Regions from separate parts of the Homo sapiens genome. Here region 1 is linked to region 2. Evidence: fine-mapped expression QTL. A gene starts in region 2. The other region holds a variant in brackets. All regions are shown on one strand. Distances are from middle to middle. Region 1 holds the start of ALDH16A1 (aldehyde dehydrogenase 16 family member A1). Region 2 holds the start of RCN3 (reticulocalbin 3).

Region 1 (4,222 bases), 72 kb before region 2:
TAGCCCCACCCCATTCCCATTAGCCCCGCCCCTTTGGGCTGGAACCGGAGGTGTCGCTCTTCGGACCTCAAGGTTCCCCTTAACACAGAGCGCCCCGCAGTCTTCGCGGAAAGCGTTCGGGGTAGGCGATGGCTGCGACGCGTGCAGGGCCCCGCGCCCGCGAGATCTTCACCTCGCTGGAGTACGGACCGGTGCCGGAGAGCCACGCATGCGCACTGGTGAGAGTCTGCCCGGCCGGCGCTGCTCGCTGCGTTCCCCAGGCCTGGGCGCCCGGTTTTTCGCGGGGAGTCCCGTCATCCACTGCGGTAGCTCAGCCGCTCCGCCTCTCTTAGTCCCCGTGATTCCCGCCGCCCAATAGGATCGCGCCCTGTAGGACGCTCCCTTGAGCCTTGGCGGTGGCAGCCTTTTAGTCTGTTCCGGTCTTCCCCACTGGTTCTCTTGCCCCTTGATCCTGAACTCCTCGTAGTGTTTCCGCGGTTTTCCTGAACTCCTCTAGACGCTCTCGTGATTCCTCAGGGTCCCCTCAGAACCTGACGCCACCCACCAGACCCCTTAGGATTCCTGTGAGGCTCCAGTGACCCACAACCCCCATTGTCTTTCCACGACTCTTCAAAACATCCTATGGCTTCCATGGGCCTCCAGAGCACCCCAGACCTCCTGAGGGACTCCCTTCATCCCTTTGATTACCCAGAGACCTTCAGAACTTCCATGGAGCCCCCGTGATCCCATAGGACCCCTCAATACTCGTGGGGTTCATGTGACCTCATCGGAACTCTCAGGAGCCTAGAATACATCAGGACTTCCGGTTTGGGTTGGGTTTTTTTTTTGTTTTTTTTTTTGAGCCAGGGTCTCACTCTGTCGCCCAAACTGAAGTGCACTGGCGCTATCACACCACTGCAGCCTCAACCTCCTGGGCTCAAGCCATCCTCTCACCTCAGCCCCCCAAGTAACTGGGACCAGAGACGCGCGCCACCACTCTCAGCTAATATTTGTACTTTTTCTAGAGACAAGGTTTCAGCATGTTGGCCAGGCTGGTCTCGAACTCCTGGCCTCAAGTGATCCACCCACCTCGACTTCCCAAAGTGCTGGGATTACAGGCGTGAGCTACTGCACCCAGCCACATCAGGACTTCCTGTAATTACTTATGGCCCCTCACAATACCCTCACGGGGCTCCTATGATCTCTCTAGCTCTCAGAATGTCCCATAGGGTTCCCATGATTGTTCAGGAACCCCTGAAGTCCTCGTGAGGGTCCCATGATCCCCTGGGGGTCCTCAGAACCTCCCTAGGACTCCCATGACCCCTCAGAGGCCCCCAGAACCCTCGTGGGGTTCCTGCAAATGAGTAGGGCACCTCAAACTTTCTGTCGTTTCCCCAGGCACTCTCAGAATTCCTTCACGGGGCTCTCATGATCCCCCAGGGTCCCCCAGCACCCAGGCGAAAGGAGCTTAGGCTTCTTTGAGGGGGAGGGCAGGAGGCCAGAGCAATGATCCAAGTGGAAGGAACTGGATCAGAACCCTGGCACAGCCTAGAACTTGGGGAGGCCAAGACGGGCAGATCGCCTGAGCTCAGGAATTCGAGACCAGCCTGGGCAACATAGTGAAACCTCGTCTCTACTAAAATACAAAACATTGGGCCAGGCGTGGTGGCTCAGACTTGTAATCCCAGCACTTTGGGAGTCCTAGGTGGGCGGATCACCTGAGGTCAGGAGTTCGAGACCAGCCTGGCCAACATGGTGAAACCCCATCTCTACTAAAATACAAAAATTACCTGAGCGTGGTGGTGTTTGCCTGTAATCCTAGCTACTTGGGAGGCTGAGGTGGGAGAATTGCTTGAATCCAGGAGGCAGAGGTTGCAGTAAGCTGAGATTG[C/T]ACCACTGCACTCCAGCCTGGGCAACGGAGCAAGACGCTGTCTCCAAAAAAAATACAAAAATGGCTGGGCGCAGTGGTTCACACCTGTAATCCCAGCGCTTTGGGAGGCCGAGGCGGGCGGATCATGAGGTCAGGAGATCGAGACCAGCCTGGCCAAGATGGTGAAACCCATCTCTACTAAAAATACAAAAAATTAGCTGGGCGTGGTGGCAGGCACCTGTAATCCCAGCTACTTGGGAGGCTGGGGCAGGAGAATCGCTTGAACCCAGGAGGTGGAGATTGCAGTGAGCCGAGACCACGCCACTGCACTCCAGCCTGGGCAACAAGAGCAAAACTCCATCTCAAAAAAAAAAAAAAAAAAAAAAGGAAACAGAAAACAAAAGATTAGCCGAGGATGGCAGCACACACCTGTAGTCCCAGCTACCCGGGAGGCTGAGGTGGGAGGATCACCTGAGCCTGGGAGGTGCAGTGATCATACCACTGAACTCCAGCCTGGGTGACAGAATAAGACCCTGTCCCCCCTGAAAAAAAAAGAAGTTGAGGCCAGGCAAGTGGCTCACACCTGTAATCCCAGCAGTTTGGGAGACCGAGGCAGGAGGATCACTCGCACCTAGGAGTTTGAGACCAGCCTGGGCAACATGGTGAGGCCCTATCTCTATTAATATAAAAATAAAACATAAAAAGTGAAGTTGAGACTTGGACTTGAGTCCTTGCATTTCAGACCCGTGGTCTTGCCTACACCAGCAAAGTTCTCAACCGTACAGTCTCTGGGCCAGACTCAACCAACAAACATGTTTTCTTTGGCGTGAACTTTATTTTTTTTTTATGTGAAATGCTGGACAATTGATTCCATGTAAACATCCGGGAGGTCCTCTTGAAAATAAAATTCCAAAATGTGTCAACATTTGGCTCAACTTCCCTGACAAAAGTCATCTGGGACCAATAGCTCCTGTCTTTTCCATGAATCGTTAAGCTCCTCTTCTCATCCAGGCCCTCTTCTCAGGCCTCCTGGAACCCTCTGGACATTCTTTTGGAATTTTGTTTTTCTTTTGGGGGGAAGCTTTCCAACTTGCACAGAATAATTAGCATTTATTTTGAACTCCTGTTTACCCATCACTGTGCCTCAACCATCATCAACATTTATCCCAGCGCTGTTTCCTTCTGTATTTTCTTTGGAGTAATTTAAACAAATCCTGGATGTCACAGTATTTTCCTATAAATATTTGAATCCTTTCTTCTAACAGATAAGGGCTCATTTTGTTACAAAACTACCATGGTCTGTTACCACACTTAACATTAAGTCATTCTTTTTGTTTTTTGTTTGTTTGTTTGAGACAGGATCTTACTCTGTCGCCCAGGCTAGCATTCAGTAGCGTTCATAGCTCACTGCAGCCTGAAACTCCTGGACCCAAGCAATCCTCCCACCCCAGCCTCCTGACTAGCTGAGACTACAAGTGTGCATCATCATGACTGGCAAATTTTTTACTTTTATTTTTGTAGAGATGGGGTCTTGCTGTGTAGGTCCAGACTAGTCTCAAACTCCTCAGCTCAAGCAATCCTCCCGTCTCAGCGTGGGAAAGTGCAGGGATTACAGATGTGAGCTACCATGCCCGGCCAACAATCATTCTTTAATGTCATCTGATGCCCAGTTCATGTTCAAATATCCCTGACTTTCTCACAGATGTCTCTCTCCCTGTGGGCGTTTGAGTTTGGAACTTCTAAGTAACTTTTTTGCTTTAAAGAGAAAGGAGAAGCCAGGCACAGTGGCTCATGCTTGTAATCCCAGCACTTTGGGAGGCCGAGGCGAGTGGATCACCTGAGGCCAGGAGTTCGAGACCAGCCTGGCCAACATGGTAAAAACCCATCTCTACTAGAAATATATAAATTAGCTGGGCATGGTGGCGGCCGCCTGTAATCCCAGCTACTTGGGAGGCTGAGGTAGGAGAATCACGTGAACCCAGGAGGCGGAGGTTGCAGTGAGCTGAGATCGCACCATTGCACTCCAGCCTGGGAGACAAGAGCAAGACTCCATCTCAAAAAAAAAAAAGAAAGAAGGGCCAGTAAGAGAAAAATCAGGAATATGTGACATCAGAGATGCTAGGGGAGTCTGTAGAAGGAGCAAGTGAGCAGTGTGCTTTGGATTTAGCATCAGGGAAGACGTGACCAGGATGAGAAAGAAATATGGAGGAGAAGTCCGGGCGCAGTGGCTCACGCCTGTAATCTCAGCACTTTGGGAGGCCGAGGCGGGCGGATCACGAGGTCAGGAGATCAAGACCATCCTGGCTAACACAGTGAAACCCCATCTCTACTAAAAATACAAAAAAATTAGCCAGGCGTGGTGGCAGGCGCATG
Region 2 (4,509 bases):
TGTCCTGACTGGGTGGGGTGGAGGGGCTGCTCCACATCTCACAGCGTTCTCTGGCTGCAGAATCTCCAGCCAAGTCCTCCGTGCTCGTGGTGGGAATCGTCATCGGTGTCTTGCTACTCACGGCAGCGGCTGTAGGAGGAGCTCTGTTGTGGAGAAGGATGAGGAGTGGGCTGCCAGGTGGGGGGCAGCGGGAGGAAGAGCCTCTGAGAGAGGGACAGAGACCCCAAGAGAGGGGCACACAGACCTGGGAGGACAGAGACCCAGAGAGGGGGGACAGAGATCAGAGAGAGGTGGAGACAGAAACCCAGAGATGGGAGAACAGAGGTGCAGAGAGAGGGGGACGGAGACAGAGACCCAGAGACGGGGGAACAGAGACCCAGAGGGGACAGAGAGAGGTGCGGACAGAGGGAGGGGGAGACAGACCCAGAGGAGGGAGGCAAAGATGTAGAAAGAGGGGGGACGGAAAATTGGGAGAAGGGGAGACAAAGGCCCAGAAGGAAGGGGATAGAGACTGAGGAAGAGTGTGTGAGACACACACACAAATGGGGGACGCCAGTCAGACCCAGAGCGCCTCAGAGATTCTGATGACCTCTCCCTCTCTCTCTCTCCTCAGCCCCTTGGATCTCCCTTCGTGGAGACGACACCGGGGTCCTCCTGCCCACCCCAGGGGAGGCCCAGGATGCTGATTTGAAGGATGTAAATGTGATTCCAGCCACCGCCTGACCATCCGCCATTCCGACTGCTAAAAGCGAATGTAGTCAGGCCCCTTTCATGCTGTGAGACCTCCTGGAACACTGGCATCTCTGAGCCTCCAGAAGGGGTTCTGGGCCTAGTTGTCCTCCCTCTGGAGCCCCGTCCTGTGGTCTGCCTCAGTTTCCCCTCCTAATACATATGGCTGTTTTCCACCTCGATAATATAACACGAGTTTGGGCCCGAATCAGTGTGTTCTCATCATTTTTCAGGCAGGGGAGGTAAGGGAATAAGTCGGGGGACTGAATGGCGGCTGGGCCTCGGATCTCTCCTACAGGTAACATGCTGCCACAGGGGAACCTGCCAGTTTTATACATCAGGTCATGTATTTTCTTTTTCTTTTTCTTTTTTCTTTTTTTTTAGACGGAGTCTTGCTCTGTTGCTCAGTCCGGAGTCCTGTGGCGCGATCTCGGCTCACTGTAAGCTCCGCCTCCCTGGGTTCACGCCATTCTCCTGCCTCAGGCTCCCGAGTAGCTGGGACTACAGGCGCCTGCCACCATGCCTGGCTAATTTTTTGTATTTTTAGTACAGACGGGGTTTCACCATGTTAGCCAGGATGGTCTCGATCTCCTGACCTCATGATCCACCCGCCTCTGCCTCCCAAAGGGGTGGGATTACAAGTGTGAGCCACCGCGCCCGGCCTAAGGTCACTTTTTTTTTTTTTTTTTAAGACAGAGTTTTGCTCTTGTTGCTCAGACTGGAGTACAATTGCGTGATCTCAGCTCACTGCAACCTCCGCCTCCCAGGTTCAAGCAATTCTCCTGCCTCCCAAGTAGCTGGGATTACAGGCATGCACCACCACACCCGGCTAATTTTTTGTATTTAGTAGAGACGGGGTTTCACCATGTTGGTCAGGCTGGTCTGGAACTCCTGACCTCAGGTGATCCACCTGCCTCAGCTTCCCAAAGTTCTGGGATTACAGGCATTGAGCTACTGTGCTCAACCTGAGGTCATGTATTTTTAATTCATAACTTTTACAAATATTTACTGGATGACTGCCATGCCAGGCATTTTGAGGAATTCTTGGCTACTGTCTGACCACCTGAATCCTTGGAGCCGAAGAGGAGCGAGGAGCAGTGTTCACTCTTGGAGGAAATGGGATATTTCCTCCGGCCCCTTGATTCTGCTCTCCCTTTTCTTTTCTTTTCTTTTCTTTCTTTTTTTTTTTGAGACGGAGTTTCGCTCTTGTTGCCCAGGCTGGAATGCAATGGTGCGATCTCGGCTCACCACAACCTCCGCCTCCCAGGTTCAAGCAATTCTCCTGCCTCAGCCTCCCAAAGTAGCTGGGATTAAAGACATGCGCCACCACACCCGGCTAATTTTGTATGTTTAGTAGAGATGGGGTTTCTCCGTGTTGATCAGGCTGGTCTCGAACTCCCGACCTCAGGCGATCCGCCCGCCTCGGCCTCCCAAAGTTCTGGGATTACAGGCGTGAGCCACCGCGCCCGGCCTTTTTTCTTTTCTTTCGTTCTTTTTGTTTATTTTTGTTTTGTTTTGTTTTGTTTGGTATAGAAGTGTTGGAACGTACACCTCTTTCTTAAACCATCCTGACAAAGGGAAAGGGAAAAATACATTTCCCGTGAGGCGTTGTGACTAGAACAGCTGGAGGTGGACGGCAGAGTGCCGCGACGACTGCCAGGAGTTGTAGTTCTCCCCGGCCGCGTCACTGCGGTGTCGCCCACCCTTCTTCCCCGGGCAGGCCGCGGTTTCCTTTGTGGACGTGGCGAGGAGTGCCCGCGGCACCCCGTGCACTCATTGGCCCCGCCCCGTGAGACGCTCGTGCGAGCTCATTGGGCGGGGGGCGGGGCTCTGCGCTGCCAGAGGCGGGGCCTGACTGGAGAGCGGCCGAATTGGGCACATTTGCGGGAACGCAGAGCGGAGCGTGGAGAGCGGAGCGAAGCTGGATAACAGGGTAAAGGGAGTGGGTGGGGGGCCTCTGTCCAGGGAGGGCGGCTCGGGTCGAGGACCAGGGTCCGGACTGGGAGCAATGACGGGGAGCCTGCCTGACCTCTCGCTGGCCACAACTATGCCCTGCACCTTGCGTGGGATGTGCGCCACGTCTGTCTCTGTAATTCCCCCTGGCAGGTCTGGGACCCCCCTGAGACTCCGTCAGAAGATTCGGTCCTCCCCATAGGTGGCTTTACCTCTAAGCATCCCGCCCTCTTTTCCCCCATCGCCCGCCCTTTTTGAGCCCGAAAGCTTGCAGCCAACTTCCAACTCCCTGTCCTGTCCTAGGTAACCCCTCCACCCCGCCATTCTCCTATCCCGTGTCTGTCCCCATCCCTGTGACCCCTGACCCCTGGCCTTTGCCACTCCCCAGGGACCGATGATGTGGCGACCATCAGTTCTGCTGCTTCTGTTGCTACTGAGGCACGGGGCCCAGGGGAAGCCATCCCCAGACGCAGGCCCTCATGGCCAGGGGAGGGTGCACCAGGCGGCCCCCCTGAGCGACGCTCCCCATGATGACGCCCACGGGAACTTCCAGTACGACCATGAGGCTTTCCTGGGACGGGAAGTGGCCAAGGAATTCGACCAACTCACCCCAGAGGAAAGCCAGGCCCGTCTGGGGTAAGAGAGACATTCGGTTGGGGCGTGTCCAGAGGTGGGGCTTAGGAGAGAGACGCGGGGGTATCGACAGGGGTCAGAGAAATGGCGTGGACTGAACTTCATTTCTTTGTGAGAAATGAAATTCTACCTTCTATCCTTGGGAAAAAGAAATTAAGTTAAAATTGAGGCCTAAAGAGGACCTTTGAGACCGGGCGTGGTGGCTCATGCCTGTAATCCCAGCACTTTGGGAGGCCAAGGCAGGCCGATCACTTGAGGTCAGGAGTTCGAGAACAGCCTGGCCAACATGGTGAAATCCCGTCTCTACTAAAAATACAAAATTAGGCAGGCGTGGTGGTGGGCACCTGTAATCCCAGCTACTCGGGAGGCTGAGGCAGGAGAATCGCTTGAACCTGGGAGGTGGAGGTTGCAGTGAGCCAAAATTGCACCACTGCCCTCCAGTCAGGGCGACAAAGTGAGACTCCGTCTAAAAAACAACAACAACAATAAAAAAGAGGACCTTTGAGGGCAGCAAAATCTGGGTTAGATTCTGCCCCCTAAGCGCTCCTTATTCTTTTGTCCCAGACATCTCCCCTCCCCAAGCCTCAGTTTCCTGCTCTGTAAATGGCAGGGACTGGTGTGGAAAATGAGGTTTGGCCTTTAAGGAGCCCGGCCAGTGCAGGAGAGTGGCAGAGCCCTGAGTTTCAGGGTGAGCTGGGTGGAATGGAGCCCTGTCCACCCTCTCCGTCCAGGCCTGAGCGCAGGGGGGCGCGATGGGAGCAGCCGCCTTCTTCTGTGCATCCTCCTGACACTGATTGAGCCTGCAAAGGTTTATCGAGCACCTGCTATGTGCCAGGCACTGCTCTAGGTGCTGAAGTCACAACAGCTAACACATCTGTCCTCCTGAAGTTTACACTGTGGTGAGGGAAACAGCAAGAAGTCAATAAGTAGAAAGTGGATCAAATAGAGATAAATGCATCCAAGAAAGATAAAGCAAGAGAGTCAGAAAGTGTGGAGGGGAGAGGTTGTTGGTGGGGGGGAGTTGCAATTTTTATTTATTTATTTATTTATTTATTTACTTATTGAGATGGAGTCTCGCTCTGTCACCCAGGCTGGAGTGCAGTGGTGCGATCTCGGCTCACTGCAACCTCCACCTCCTGGGCTCAAGCAATTGTCCTGTCTCAGCCTCCCAAGTAGCTGGGATTACAGGCGCTA

The links. PIP is the estimated chance that this variant, and not a neighbour inherited with it, causes the effect.
Region 1: its variant is fine-mapped to the expression of RCN3 in whole blood (TOPMed, PIP above 0.99).

The regions. Positions count from the first base shown.
Region 1 is chr19:49,453,204-49,457,425 of GRCh38, forward strand. ALDH16A1 (aldehyde dehydrogenase 16 family member A1) reads left to right here and starts at 22. Exons shown (of 17, transcript NM_153329.4): 1 at 22-218. The coding sequence starts at 129. RefSeq lists an enhancer at 615-1,574. The variant C/T (reference allele first, on the strand shown) is at 1,871.
Region 2 is chr19:49,525,397-49,529,905 of GRCh38, forward strand. It overlaps RCN3 (reticulocalbin 3), which reads left to right and starts at 2,607. Exons shown (of 7, transcript NM_020650.3): 1 at 2,607-2,662; 2 at 3,071-3,318. The coding sequence starts at 3,077. It overlaps FCGRT (Fc gamma receptor and transporter), which reads left to right. Exons shown (of 7, transcript NM_001136019.3): 6 at 61-177; 7 at 614-1,032. The coding sequence ends at 723. RefSeq lists an enhancer at 2,523-3,101 and a silencer at 2,565-2,684.